Linked DNA regions of Homo sapiens. The protein of the gene in region 1 purifies or fractionates together with the protein of each later gene. This does not show direct contact. Each region holds a gene or a part of one and is shown in the gene's direction. Other genes may lie near its edges.

Region 1 (7,027 bases):
GGTACAGACCACATACATGGAGCTGTCCCAGTCCGTTTGGGTTGCTATAATAAGATACCTTAGAGTGAGCAATTTACAAACAACAGAATTGACTGCTCATAGTTCTGGAGGCTGGTAAGTCCAAGATCAATGTGTCAACAGAGTTGGTCTGGTTGGGGCCTGCTGTCTCATAGATGGCACCTCTTACATGTCCTCATATGGTAGAAGGTGAACACAGGCTCCCTCAAGCCTCTTTTATGAGGACATTAATTGCCTTGTAAAGACCCCACCTCTTAACACTATCTCACTGGGTATTAGGTTCCAATGTATGAATTTTACGGGGGGACACCAACATTTAGGCCTTAACAGGTACCTCCGTGAGGGCATGAGGACCTGGGGTCTCTGAGCAGTAACAAGTGCCCTGTTTCAGGCATCTGTGTGCTTCGAGGATGTGGCTATGGCATTCACACAGGAGGAGTGGGAACAGCTGGACCTGGCCCAGAGGACACTGTACCGAGAGGTGACACTGGAGACCTGGGAGCATATTGTCTCCCTGGGTAAGTGGCTGTGCTCATGGAAGGAGGTTCTACCCCTAGGACTCAAAGCTGTACCAAGTTCTGAAGGGTGTTCTGGGATGTGCTGGAAGATACTGGAAGCAGGTCCCTTTCAGGTGCAGTTCCCAGGGGTTGCCCTTCATTCTATCTCTGGGACAGGTTTGTGACTTGTAGTCCTAACAGTGGGGAGTTTCCTCGGGACAGCACTAGGGGCTGAAGCTTGGACCCAGGACATGGTTCTTGGTGTCCAAGCAGAGGGGCAAGTCCTTTTTCCGTCTTTGACCAGGGCTTTTCCTTTCCAAATCTGATGTGATCTCTCAGCTGGAGCAAGAAGAGGACCTGTGCAGGGCAGAGCAGGAGGCCCCCCGAGGTAAGAGCAGACCTTGTGGTGAGCAGCTCAACGTTTAACAAGCTTGGACAGAGAGCTCTCCGCAGGGCCCCAGGGGCCAAGGAGGGAGCCTTGTTTGGAGGAAGCCTCCTTGGGTGCTCTTTGCAGCAGTTCACCCATTCAAAGGAGTTCACCAATTCGAAGTATGCAGTTCATGGCTTCCAGTGTCTTCCCTGAGTGTGGAACCCTCACCACAATCAGTTCTAGAACATGTTCATCATCCCAACCATTTAGGCCTCTTTACTTGATTTGTTTTTTTTTAATTAATGTATGTATTTATTTATTTATTTTGAGATAGGGTTTTACTCTGTTGCCCAGGCTGAAGTGCAGTGGCGCTGTCTTGGCTCACTATAGCCCCCATCTCCCTGGCTCAAGCAATTCTCATGCGTCAGCCTCCCTAGTAGCTTGGACTACAGGTGCACACTGCCACACCTGGCTAATTCTTTTGTTTTTGTTTTTGTTTTTTAAGACGGAGTTTCGCTCTTGTTGCCCAGACTGGAGTGCAATGGCACAATCTCGGCTCACCACAACCTCCACCTCCCAGGTTCAAGTGATTCTCCTGCCTCAGCCTCCCAAGTAGCTGGGATTACAGGCATGTCCACCATGCCCGGCTAATTTTTTGTATTTTTAGTGGAGACAGAGTTTCACCGTGTTAGCCAGGATGGTCTTGATCTCCTGACCTCATGATCCGCCCGCCTCAGCCTCCCAAAGTGCTGAGATTACAGGTGTGAGCCATCACGCCTGGCCCTAATTTTGTATTTTTATTAGAGGTGGGGTTTCTCCATGTTGGTCAGGCTGGTCTCGAACTCCCGACCTCAGGTGATCCACCTGCCTCAGCCTCCCAAAGTGCCGGGATTACAGGTATGAGCCACTGCACCTGGCCATTAATTTTTGTATTTTTAATGGAGATAGGGTTTCATCATGTTGCCCAGGCTAATAGACTTTATTTTTTAGAGCAGTTTTAGGTTTATAGGTAAGTTGACGAGAAAGTGCAGAGTTCCCACCCATGTCTGCTGTCCTACAGACACATGCAGTGTCTCCTGCTGTTAACAACTTGGATTTGTATTGTACATCTGTTACAATCGGCAAACCTATCTTGAGGCATCCTTTTTTTTTTTCCCAGACAGAGTCTCACTCTGTCACCAGGCTGGCGTACAGTGGTGTGATCTCAGCTCACTGCAACCTCCGCCCCCCAGGTTCAAGTGATTTTCCTGCCTCAACCTCCCAACTAACTGGGACTACAGGCACGCACCACCACGCCCAGCTAATTTTTGTATTTTTAGTAGAGTCAGAGTTTCACCATGTTGGCCAGGATGGTCTCGATCTCCTGACCTCATGATGCGCCCCCCTCAGCCTCCCAAAGTGCTGGGATTACAGGCGTGAGCCACTACCCCTTGCCCTTGAGGCATCATTATCACCCAAAGTCCATAGTTTATGATAGGGTTCATGCTTTTTTTTTTCTTTTTTTTTTTTTTTTTTTGAGACAGTGATGCAGTCATAGCTTAAGCCTTCTGGGCTTAAGTGATCCTCCCACCTCTCTGCACCCCAGCCTCAGGTGCCACAGCATGCACCACCATGCCTGGCTAATGTAAAAATTTTTTGTAGAGATGGAGTGTCACTGTGTTGCCCAGGCTTGTCTTGAACTCCTGGGCTCAAGTGATCCTCCCACCTCAGCCTCCCAAAGTGCTGGGATTACATGTATGAGCCACTGCACCTGGCCAGGCTTCACTCCTGATGTTGTATATTCTGTGCATTTGGACAAATGTACAATGTCATGTATCCACCATTATAGTATCAGACAGAGTAGTTCCACTACCCTAAATATTCTCTGTGCTCTACCCATTCATCCCTCCCTCATCCCCAGCCCCTGGTGTTACTGGTGGAGGATGTGCAGGTTCTTGGCATTTTGAACAAAGAATTGGACAAAATGCATAAAACAATGAAAGAATGAAGCAAAAAAAGCATAGATTTATCAAAATGAAAGTACACTCCACACAATGGGAGTGGTCTGGAGCAAGCAGCTCAAGAGCACTGGTTACAGAATTTTCTGGGGTTTAAATCCCGAGAGGTTTCCCATTGGTTACTTGGTTTATATCCTCTGTAAATGAAGTAGTGGCCCATAACTAGTCTGATTGGTTGGGGAAGGTGACCAACAGAGGCTGAAGTGAAGTTACAAAGTTACACCTCTATGCAGATGAAAACTAGGCCAGTGACCAGTCTCATTGGTTGCAGGAAGAGGTACTTTCCATTTTTCATCTGCGACACAGAAGGCGGGGGTTGCCTCTGATCCTTTTGTTATTTGGGGCATGGAAAGTTTGGGTTTTCCTTTTGATTCAGTTCCAGGAAGTCAGCATTAATCACCCTTAGGTTTCTTGCCTCCATACCCTGTTCTCATACCTCATTTCCCCCCGAAAGACATGATCCTCATAAATCTTTATGGGAGGTAAAGGGATTGATAGTCTTTCTTCTGTAACTGCTTTATGCTGACCTGAGGCACAGTCCCTACGTACTGGGGAATCACAGGACTCTCTCCCCGCCCTGTCTAGTGGAGACAGGATAGCTTCTTGATGGCCAGGGGTGGTGTCTCCACCTGGAACTGGCTGGAAACATTGTCACATGATCATCTGAAGCTTGATGGTCTCTAGGTGACAGGAAATGAATTTGGTTAAGAGTTTAACAAACATGGTCCAAAAACCAAGGCAAGTATAGTCATTACTAATGGGCTGGCCAGAGGAAGGAGCCATGAACCCCAACTTAGCATTTTTGACCAGGAGCCCCATGACTCAGATAGCTGTTGTTGTATTTTAGAGGCCCAGTTGGGTAGTTTTTGGGTGGCATTTGTTACTAATCCTCATTGTTCGGCATAAAAACAGCATTCTTCCTCTAGAAAAAGACCTAAGCCCCCCTTTACAGCAGTTAGGAGATCTCATCCCCTTCTGTTTTGCCAAGCAACTGCTGCTGAGGCATCTATTTGATTTCGTATGGTGATGATACTTTGGCCAATGTCTCTATTTTTTCTTTTTTACTTTGGGCAATGTCATTCAAGCTTTCCATAAAATCCTTGGAAAAGCATTGGTAATAGGATAGGGATGTTACAACCCGGCTGACTCCCATTCCCAGTCCCGCGGTTATTTGTAGTCCTACCAAAAGGGATGTGAGTTGGATGGTTCATTTGTGTCTGGCAATTGCAGTTAAAGGTATAATGAGGGATTGGTTCTTGGGAGCTATATTAATTTCACAGGCTAAATAAACAAGTGTAAAGGTTCTAGTCCAATTGGCTGGTAAACATAAGTAAGAACTAGTTCCACACAGGTAAAAGGCTCCTAGTTTTTCAAGACAAGAATTTTCTATGGTAAACATGTGGGTTAGCTTGTTGTTTTCACTTTCCCAAGTGGTTAAGGTCCCTATGAAGGTGGCCCCAGTTAAAGGCTGGAAAGGACCTTGGGAAATATTCTGAGTTGCCCCAGCAGTTCTGTTTTCCCATTGGAGGTAATTAGGCTTAGTGTCTACCAACAAGCATCCAGAGGTGTTTCGTACTGGGGAACCAAAAGATAACTAGATGTCTGAGGATTAGTGCAGTCTTCCCAAGGGAAAATATGATCATAGCTAGTGGGCTTACCTTGGCAGTACTTAGACTGTGTATCCTTTGAAGTGTCCTTATCTAGGGATGGTTTCCATGAAAACCATACAGGTTTTCTAAATGACACAGTCTGGGTAACTGCCTAGCTTATGTAATCATGTGAGGGGTTAATAATCTCTAGGGTGTAGTTACACTGATGACTTTTCAAGGTTCCCAGGGCCTGACCAAAATTTTGGCTTCTCTTAATACAAAGTGGCACCTGGAATTTTAGCTCTGTGTACATTGATATTGGGCCCCAAATGGGTTTCTGTGGGATGCAACCCCAGAAAGGGTACTCTGATAGTACTGGAGAAGGTTTACTGCTTGTCCTGTCATCGTAGTTCATGTTTTTTTCCCCAAGGCCAAAGATTGGGCTGGGATTGGGGTGGTAGTGTATTTGAATGATGCTGGAGATAACCAAAGCCAACAGTCTTTGCCAGAGCTGGGCTGGTGGTATTTAACTGTCTTTGAGTTAAATGTAAAGTTTTTAATAAATACCCAGAATCCATTAACTGCTGGAGGGGTAAAGTGAAGCTCTGTTGTAAAATAAAGCTGATTCCCATTATGCGTGGTCCTGTATACACAGGCTGTGGGTGACCATTATGGAACCAAAAAATACTTATTTGTTATTTTGTGCTATAGAATAGGAACTTCAGGGGTGGATACCTATGCTGTCAGGAATGCTTGTTATAAGAATTAATTAAAACACTTTGCTTAATTATTACAAAGGAAGTTATTCCATTTGTTTAGAAGAAAGCAATTAAATTGTAGAAGTATAACAATGGCTACTATTATCCAGTTTAAAGTAACTAAGCAACAAAGACACCAAGGAAAGTTGGTAGGCTTTTACTTATCTTTTGGCTGTCTTTTAAACAGGTACTTCAGGTCTTTCACAAGTCACAGGTGTAGTGGCTGATGGGAGCTTCAGGTTCCCGGTCTGGGACTTCACATAACACAGGCTTGACACCAGAAAGATGTATCCAACTATCTAATCCTAGTACTTTGACCCCAGAAGGCATGGCCAGTACTGAAAATGGTCCCTTCCACTTTGATTGTAATTATTGAGCAGGTGATCCCTCCTTCTATGTTTTAACAGGTACCTTGTCTGTTGGCCTGATTTTGGGTTGGTGGTTAGTTCCTGGTGTGGGGAGCTTTTGAGTTCCAAACTCTTGTAAAGCCTGCTGAAATAATCCCAGGTTAACTAGGTATTTTACTAAACTGGATGTTTCTGGATCAGAGATTAGATCATTAGTTAAAAATGGCCTTTTGTATAACATTTGTGTGGGCTCATAATAATTTTTTCTCTAGGGGAATTATGGATTCTTAAGAGGGCTATGGGCAGTAAGCAGATCCAAGTTTCTGATGTTTCCTGACATAGGAACTCCTATTTTAGAGTTAGCTAAGCTCTTTCCACTTTTTTGGAGGATTGAGGTCTCCATGCTGAATGTAAATAATAGTTGATTCTGAGAACCTTAGCAACCCCTTGAGTTATTTGGGAGACAAAAGATGGGCTGTTATCACTTTGGAGGCTTTGAGGTAACCCAAACCAGGGGATTATTTCCTTTAAGAGAACCTTTATAACTTCATTAAACTTCTCTGTTCTGGTAGGGTACACTTCAACCCAGCCAATAAAGGTGTCTGTTAGTACTGGCAGAAACTTTTATCCTTTGCAAGCTGGCATATCAGTGAGGTCTAATTGCCAGTCTTCCCCTTTAACTTTAGCCAATATATTCACACACAGAATCCCTTCTACAATTAATTTTTCATAAACCTTCTACAGCTTGTCTTTTAACCCTCCAAACTTTGGCAAGAAATCCATATTCTCATGCCTTTTACCAAAAGTACATTCTACTTTTTTTACATGAATCCTTTTCACGACTTACACAGACCTTCTATGACATGCCTGGACTTTCTGACTTGTCCTAAACATCCCTCTTTAAACAACCATTCATTTAACTTTAGGGCAAGAATTTACCATACAGGATCCTGTCTCATACAAAATTATTATTGCTACATCCTTCCCTACCAAGAATACATCTTCATATACATAACTTTCTTCACCTCTCTCTCCCGTACTTACTGGTTTCTTACTACCTTGTTTCATAAATAACCCTTTTTTTTAAGTCAACAACCTGAATCAACCTTTAGACAACCTCTGAACTACACAAAATCATTTCTTTCTTACCAATAGCACATCTTTTTTGGCACCTTTTGTATACAGAATCATTTGTTAACTAGAATTCTTATCCTTAGTAACCTTAAATTTTAGTGAAACCCTAAAAAGCAAGAAATCCTGAACTATTAGATATGAGCATTTTATAGATGAGAAGAATTCCACAACTTTTAGAAACATATTTCCCCGTATCATAATCCTTCCTTTTTATTTACTTATTATCATTATGTTTTTGAGACGGAGTCTTGCTCTGTCACCAGGCTAGAGTGCAGTGGCACAATCTCGGCTCACTGCAACCTCTGACTCCCTGGTTC
Region 2 (7,027 bases), on another chromosome or scaffold:
TGAAAGTCTGAGAAGACTATAGGTTTCTGGTGTGATTATCTGTATAGGTAACCTGTTTTGCCTAAGTAGAGACTGTAGGAAGAGAATCAGGTTGGGTAGGGAATCTGATGCATAAAAGTGGAGATCAGTTAGAATGCTATTGCAGTAATCCAGAGAAGTAATGAAGCAGTAACAGTGAGCCCAGGAAGAAGGGAAATTGATGAATTTATGTGATATTTAGGACAGTAAATCATCATCCTTTGGAACCATTTGAATGTGGTGGCTAAGGAAAATAGCATAGTCTGAAGTTCACTGTTGGGTTTCTATGATTTGGCAACTGGGCAGATGATGATGCCTTTCATTGATAAGAAATATGGGGAGAGGAGCAGGTTTGGTCAGGGTAATAGAATTCAGTTTGGGGTGTGTTCAGTTTGTGATGTAAGAGAGAAATATAATGATTTTTAACTTGTGGATTATCATGTTATGAGCCAGATACATTCCATAGTGTTTGGAAGAGATCCAAGTAGGGTTAGAAATATGGTGCCAGAGCAAGAGAGGGGGTCTGGCCTAAATGTATAGATTTTTCAGCATGTAGGTTGTATCTATAGCATTCGGTGAGCCTGAAATCATTCAGTGAGACCCTAGAATGAAAAGAAGACTGAGGATGGGTAACCACTGGTGTGCCATAATCCAGATGATGACTTCCTGTTAAAGTCCAAGTGAAAGATGCAGATGCCTTACTACAGTGTCCCACAAGACTGTACATGATCTCTTAACTGCTATTGCTCTGACTTTACTAATCTTCTTGTTCACTGGGCTTTAGCCACCCTGGCCTTCTGTTTCTCAGACAGTAAAATGCTCTTCCCTCGAATGCTCATAGTCCCTTCTGTGTGGCATGCTATGTTTTCTCAGAAGTTTTATTGCTGGCTCTTTGTATTATTGAGGTCCCAACTCAAATATCACTTCCTCAGAGAGGCCTTCCACAACCATTGAATCTAAAACAGCTATCCAATCACTATTCCTCATTTTCCTCATTAGTTGCCTAATTTTCTTTTTTTGTTGTTGTTAATTTTTGGCTTTTTAATTAATTATTTTTAGAGCCAGGATCTTGCTCTGTCACCTAGAGTGGAGTGCAGTGGCATAGTCATAGCTCACTGTGACCTCCAACTCTTGAGCTCAAGTGATCCTCCCTCCTCAGCCTCCCAGTAGCTAGGACTGTAGGCGCATACCACCACGCCTGACTGGTTTTTTTTTTTATTTTGTGTAGAGACAGGGCCTCACTATGTTGCCAACCTGGTCTCAAACTTCTGGTCTCAAACGATTGATCCTCTTGCCTTGGCCTCCCAGATCACTGGGATTACAGAGTGAGCCACCATGCCCTGACCGCAGCTTTATTTTCCTTATATTCTCTTTCCAGTGGTGTGCTACAGCAGTCTTCTATTGGCTTGCAAGAGCTGATTGTTAAATTTTCATGAAGTTTGTGAGCCCATTCTTAAAACACAGCCATTATTAAAAATTAAATAGCCGGGCGCTGTGGCTTACGCCTGTAATCCCAGCACTTTGGGAGGCCAAAGCAGGCGGATCACCTGAGGTCGGGAGCTCGCGACCAGCCTGACCAACATCGAGAAACCCCGTCTCTACTAAAAACACAAAATTAGCTGGGCATGGTGGCACATGCCTGTAATCCCAGCTACTCGGGAGGCTGAGGCAGGAGAATCGCTTGAACCCGGGAGGTGGAAGTTGCAGTGAGCCGAGATTGCGCCATTGCACTCCAGCCTGGGCAACAAGAGTGAAACTCTGTCTCAAAAAAAAAAATTAAATATTAAATTATGTAAATTTACGATTAAATCCTGTTTTTAAAAAAGGTAATAAATACTGATAACTTAACATTTTCTCATTATTGTACTATTACCTGTGCTCTTGAGATTATTTGTCTATCGTGCTGGAAGGTGGAGATCCTGTATCCTGTATAACTGTGTGCTACTGCTCATTTCTCCCCAGCTTTGCGTTTGCTGGGGTCAGATTGGAAGCTTTAAATCTGCCCTGGTGGGAGCGTATATCCCACAAAAATTGACAAATGCTATAACTCAGAGCTCTCCCATATCAAGCGTTAAATGGTTAAACATTGACCAACATACTACTGGTGGTATCACTAAATGAATTTACCTTGTTTATTTGTTGTCTGTCTTTCCATAAGGACACGTAGGCTCTCAGTGCAGTCCCTGCCTGCCTTGTTCATGCTGTATTCACAGCCTGTAAAACAGTGCCTGGTACACTGTGAGCTCTCAGTCACTATCTGTTGAATGAGTGGATCCTCCAGAGCAGTTAAAAGGGAGGTATAAGAAAGGCCTATTTCACTAGCAGTAGGGAGAGGCCTGCTCTACTAAGTAAGATGGGGGAGAGATAGTTCCCCTAAGGCTTACTTGGGTTCTTCTTTGTGTTATGTTCCTGAGTGAGTAGCCATGTAAATTTACTTACTTAATGATAGTAAAAACTTCTCAAGCATGGTATAGGGAAGGCCAATTAATGAGCAGGAACACTCAACCCTAGCTGCACATAGGAATCACTTGGAGTATTTTTAAAAAGAATTTGGACAGCTGAGCAGCACTCACAGACCAAATTAATCAGAAATCTCTACAGGTGGAACCTGGATATCAGTATTTATTTTGAAGTGCCCCCAGGTTATTTTAATGTGCAGCCTGAGTTTAAAACCACTGGATTCGGCCGGGCGCGTTGGCTCACGCCTGTAATCCCAGCACTTTGGGAGGCCTAGGCAGGTGGATCACGAGGTCAGGAGATCCAGACCATCCTGGCTAACACGGTGAAACCTCGTCTCTACTATAAATACAAAAAATTAGCCGGGCATGGTGGCGGGCGCCTGTAGTCCCAGCCGCTCGGCAGGCTGAGGCAGAATGGCGTGAACCCGGGAGGCGGAGCTTGCAGTGAGCTGAGATCGTGCCACTGCACTCCAGCCTGGGCAACAGAGAGAGACTCCATCTCAAAAAAAAAAACCACTGGATTCGACATCGGGTAAGGGCCAGAATGGGGAGATTTGAGCCTTATACTGTGAATACTGAGGAGCCATCATCGATAGGGTTCAAAAAGTGACTTCATTCTGTAATTTATTTTTTCATTCTACAGTGGCTTGAGTTCATACTAGAAACTGGGAGTACAGAAATGTATAGGACACCTTATCTACCAGATAAGAAGTTCACAGTCTTGTAAGGGAGGCACCAAATACGAGTTTAATGAAGTGTTTTAGAGACCATCTTGAAAATCCGATTATTGAGGGTTCAGTGAAGACTGAAAGGAAAGGATGACCTGTTCAATCTAGGTAAAGGGGAGAACCAGAATATGGGACACAGAAGAGGTAAACACAAGCTCTGGTTGATGGCTAAATATTTCCCAGGTGAACAGTGCGGAAGGAGCATTTGTAAATGCCCCTCTCAATAACTGGTACCACCATCCACCTTGTTCTTCATAAAAGAGACTGTCTCTCTCTTGATCACCACTATATCCTCAGCACATACCACAGTGTCAAGCACATAGGCATTCAGATATTTGAGAATGAATGCTATTCTGTAGAGGGAGCAACTTGAATCAGAGATCTGGGAACACGTAGTGTGTTTAGGGAACTGCAGGTCTTGGCATAGCTGGACTATTGGATTAAGAGGAATGGTCATGAGGCAGGAGGTGGGGGGTCATGAAGAGCCTGGGGTCATATGCTAAGACAGGTGGACTTGATGTAAGTCCACCTTGCAAGTAACAGAACCACGGAAGGATTGTAGATGATCGTATTTGGCAAGCTTTTTCAAAGTATACATGCCTGCTAGTTTCCCTTAGGGGTTCTTATCCTGAAGACTCCCTCGCTCCCATACATGTCTGTGTTTATATATGTACAGTTGACCTTTGAACAACGTGGGAGTTGGGGGCACCAACCCTCTGCACAGTCGAAAATTCACAATAACTCTTGACTCTCCAAAAGTTTCATTAGTAGTAACCTACTGTTGACCTAGCTGATAACATAAGCAATTCATTAAGGCTTATTTTATATGTTATGTGTATTATGTACTGTATTCTTAATAAAGTATGCTAGAGAAAAGAAAATGTTACTAAGAAAATCATAAGAGAAAATATATTTACTATTCATCAAGTGGGAGTGGATCGTCATTAATCCACTTCATCCTCATCACTTCACATCGAGTAGGCTGAGGAGGAGGAGGAAGAGGAGGGGTTGGATTTGCCCTCTCAGGAGTGGCAGAAGCAGAAAATCCTCATATAGGCCAGGCGTGGTGGTTCACGCCTGTAATCCAGCGCTTTGGGAGGCCAAGGTGGGAAGATAATTTGAGCTCAGGAGTTTCAGACCAGCTTGGGCAACATAGCAAGACCCCCGTCTCTATTGAAAAAAAAAAAAACTTAAATGTAAAAATCCTCATGTAAGTAGACCTGTGCAGTTCAAATGTGTGTTGTTTAAGGGTCAGCTATATATACGTATAAACACACACACAAACACACACAGAGTCACATGATGCATAACAACGTTTTAGTCAGTATATGATGGTGGTCCCATAAGATTATAATATCGTATTTTTGCTGTATCTTTTTTGTGTTTATATGTGTAAATTTGTACCATTGTGTTACAATCACTTATAGCATTCAGTACAGTAACATGCTGTACAGGTTTGTAGCCTAGGAGCAATAGGCTAACCACTATACTATATATAGCCTAGGTATGTAGTAGGCTATACCATCTGAGTTTGTGTAAACACACTCTGTGATGTTTGTACAATGATGAAATTGCCTACCAATGCATTTCTCAGAGTGTATCTCTGTTGTTAAACAGTGCATGACTGTATATGTGTATACATATATCCCCAGCTGATTCTGATCCTTTTCTCCTTCCACTCCCAGGACCACTAAATGGGAAGTTCTTGTTTTTAAGCCCTAAAATGATATAATGGTAGTTGGCTGCAGTCTATAGAGCGCAAACTGATACAACTATATATTTATTAATGAGAAATGTGGGATTTGAGAAGGTTTTCCAGCCTTATAAGCAAGAGTATTTATTACAAGGGTTGCAACTTTACATGAGAACTCCAACAGTGAAAAGACCTTTCCTTCATATAGTCTCTCTATATATGGACATAAAAATGTTCATGTTTGTATGTTTCACCTGCCACCCTTTTATAAACTCCTCATAAATGCTATTTGCTGCCACTTATATTCTTATGCCAAATTGTGGTCTCAGTTAACATTCTGTATTTTCTTCTATTACCTCAACATTTCATCTTTCAGTTATTGAGTTCAGTTATTGACCAATTATGCTATATTCCAAATAAAACCAGATGTTGGAAATACAAAGAGAAAATGAACTTTCCTACCTTCGAGATAATTTCATTTTAGTAGGGAGACAGACATGCATACAATTACAGTGTTGTGGGATACATACCATAATAGGTGTAGTTAGTGGGAAAAGAAGTGACAGGGAAAATATGAATGATTCCATTCGGGACTCTGGGAGAGCTTTCATAGAGGAGTGGTGCCTAAGCCTCTAAAGCATTTAGAATGCGCCTAACACTTTAGTGTCAGCACATATGACAAGTGTCCTGACTCTTTGTAAGCAGTTATACGTGTTAGCTTTAATTATTATCATTACTACTACTTTTGTAATCAGAAAAGTACTTTTTAAAAAATTAACAAATCAGAAGTCATTGGTAGACGTGTAAAGAGCAGTTTCAGGGGCTGGTTGGATAGAAGCTGAATGGCAGGGGCTGAATAAGAAATAAAAAATTTGTCACAGGCCAGGCACAATAGCTCACACCTGTAATCCCAGCACTTTGGGAGACCAAGGTGGGAGGATTGCTTGAGCCAGGAGTTTGAGACCAGCCTGGGCAACAGAGCAAGACTGTACCTCTTTATTATTATTATTATTATTATTATTATTTTATTTTGTAGAGATGGGGTCTTGCTATGTTGCCCAGGCTGGTCTTGAATGCCCGGCTTCAAGCAATCCTGCTTGAAGTGTGGAGGATTGAGATTAGCCTCCCAAAGTGCTGGAATTACAGGCATGAGCCACCATGCCCAGCCAAGACTGTCTCTACAAAAAAAATTAAGAATTAACTGGGCTTGGTGGTATGCACTTGTAATCCTAGCTACTCGAGAGGCTGAGGCAGGAGGGAGGATTGCTTTAGGAGTTCAAGGCTGTAGTGAGCTATATAATGGTGGCACTGTACTCCAGCCTGAGCAAGAGAATAAGCTCTTGTCTCGAAAAGAAGAAAAGAAAGTTATCACAGCCATATACTGCTCAACAGTACCTTTTATTGGAGCGCTTGTTTCTTGAATGATTTTTCCTTTTATTTGCACCCATATAGTTTTGTTTTATTTTATATAATTTGGGTTTCAAATGTTTGTTTTAATGTAATTTTTAAAGCTAAGTAGAGGCAAATGGAACAGGTTTGTCAGTGTGGCAGGTGAAACCATGTGAAGTTGATCAGATTACTCTAGGGCTTAATGTCTCATCTTTGCTGTCTTCATTAAATTTCCCAAAGAGATACTGACAATGATAGCAATCAGAAATATAATAAAATATTATGATAACTCAGTATCAATTTATTGATCCTAATTTTCTTTACATCTCTTTTTTTTACTATATGAAAATCTAACATCAGAACACTCTGCTCCTGTTCACGTCATAGAGTAATATTTTGTCAAAGATGAAACCTTACCAATGTAGTCTTTAATCTGTCCTGATTTATTTTACAGTATGTGCTCATTACTTTCTTGCCTTATCCACAGAAGGAGCTCAAAAAGTGGGATGAGTTTGAAGATATTTTAGAAGAGAGGAGGCATGTCAGTGACTTGAAATTTGCAATGAAATGCTACACACCTCTTGTCTATAAGGGAATTACTCCATGTAAACCAATTGATATTAAATGTAGTGTTCTCAATTCTGAGGAGATTCATTATGTCATTAAACAGGTAAGTGATTCCCTCTTCAACCATGGCCAGATTTGTTCATTGTCAACAAGTTCTTAATTCTATAACTTAT

What was found. The genes of interacting proteins can lie anywhere in the genome.
Region 2: the proteins of ZNF544 (region 1) and GNPAT purify together in Homo sapiens (affinity purification with mass spectrometry; 2 studies listed by BioGRID and IntAct, with this or other methods). This does not show direct contact.

The regions. Positions count from the first base shown.
Region 1 is NC_000019.10:58,245,892-58,252,918, forward strand, and holds part of ZNF544 (zinc finger protein 544), read left to right. Parts: intron 1-409; coding exon 410-536; intron 537-819; coding exon 820-903; coding exon of another isoform or gene 904-941; exon of another isoform or gene 942-1,150; intron 1,151-1,390; coding exon of another isoform or gene 1,391-1,536; exon of another isoform or gene 1,537-5,264; intron 5,265-7,027. UniProt on the Homo sapiens protein: May be involved in transcriptional regulation.
Region 2 is NC_000001.11:231,244,187-231,251,213, forward strand, and holds part of GNPAT (dihydroxyacetone phosphate acyltransferase), read left to right. Parts: intron 1-6,774; coding exon 6,775-6,957; intron 6,958-7,027. UniProt on the Homo sapiens protein: Dihydroxyacetonephosphate acyltransferase catalyzing the first step in the biosynthesis of plasmalogens, a subset of phospholipids that differ from other glycerolipids by having an alkyl chain attached through a vinyl ether linkage at the sn-1 position of the glycerol backbone, and which unique physical properties have an impact on various aspects of cell signaling and membrane biology.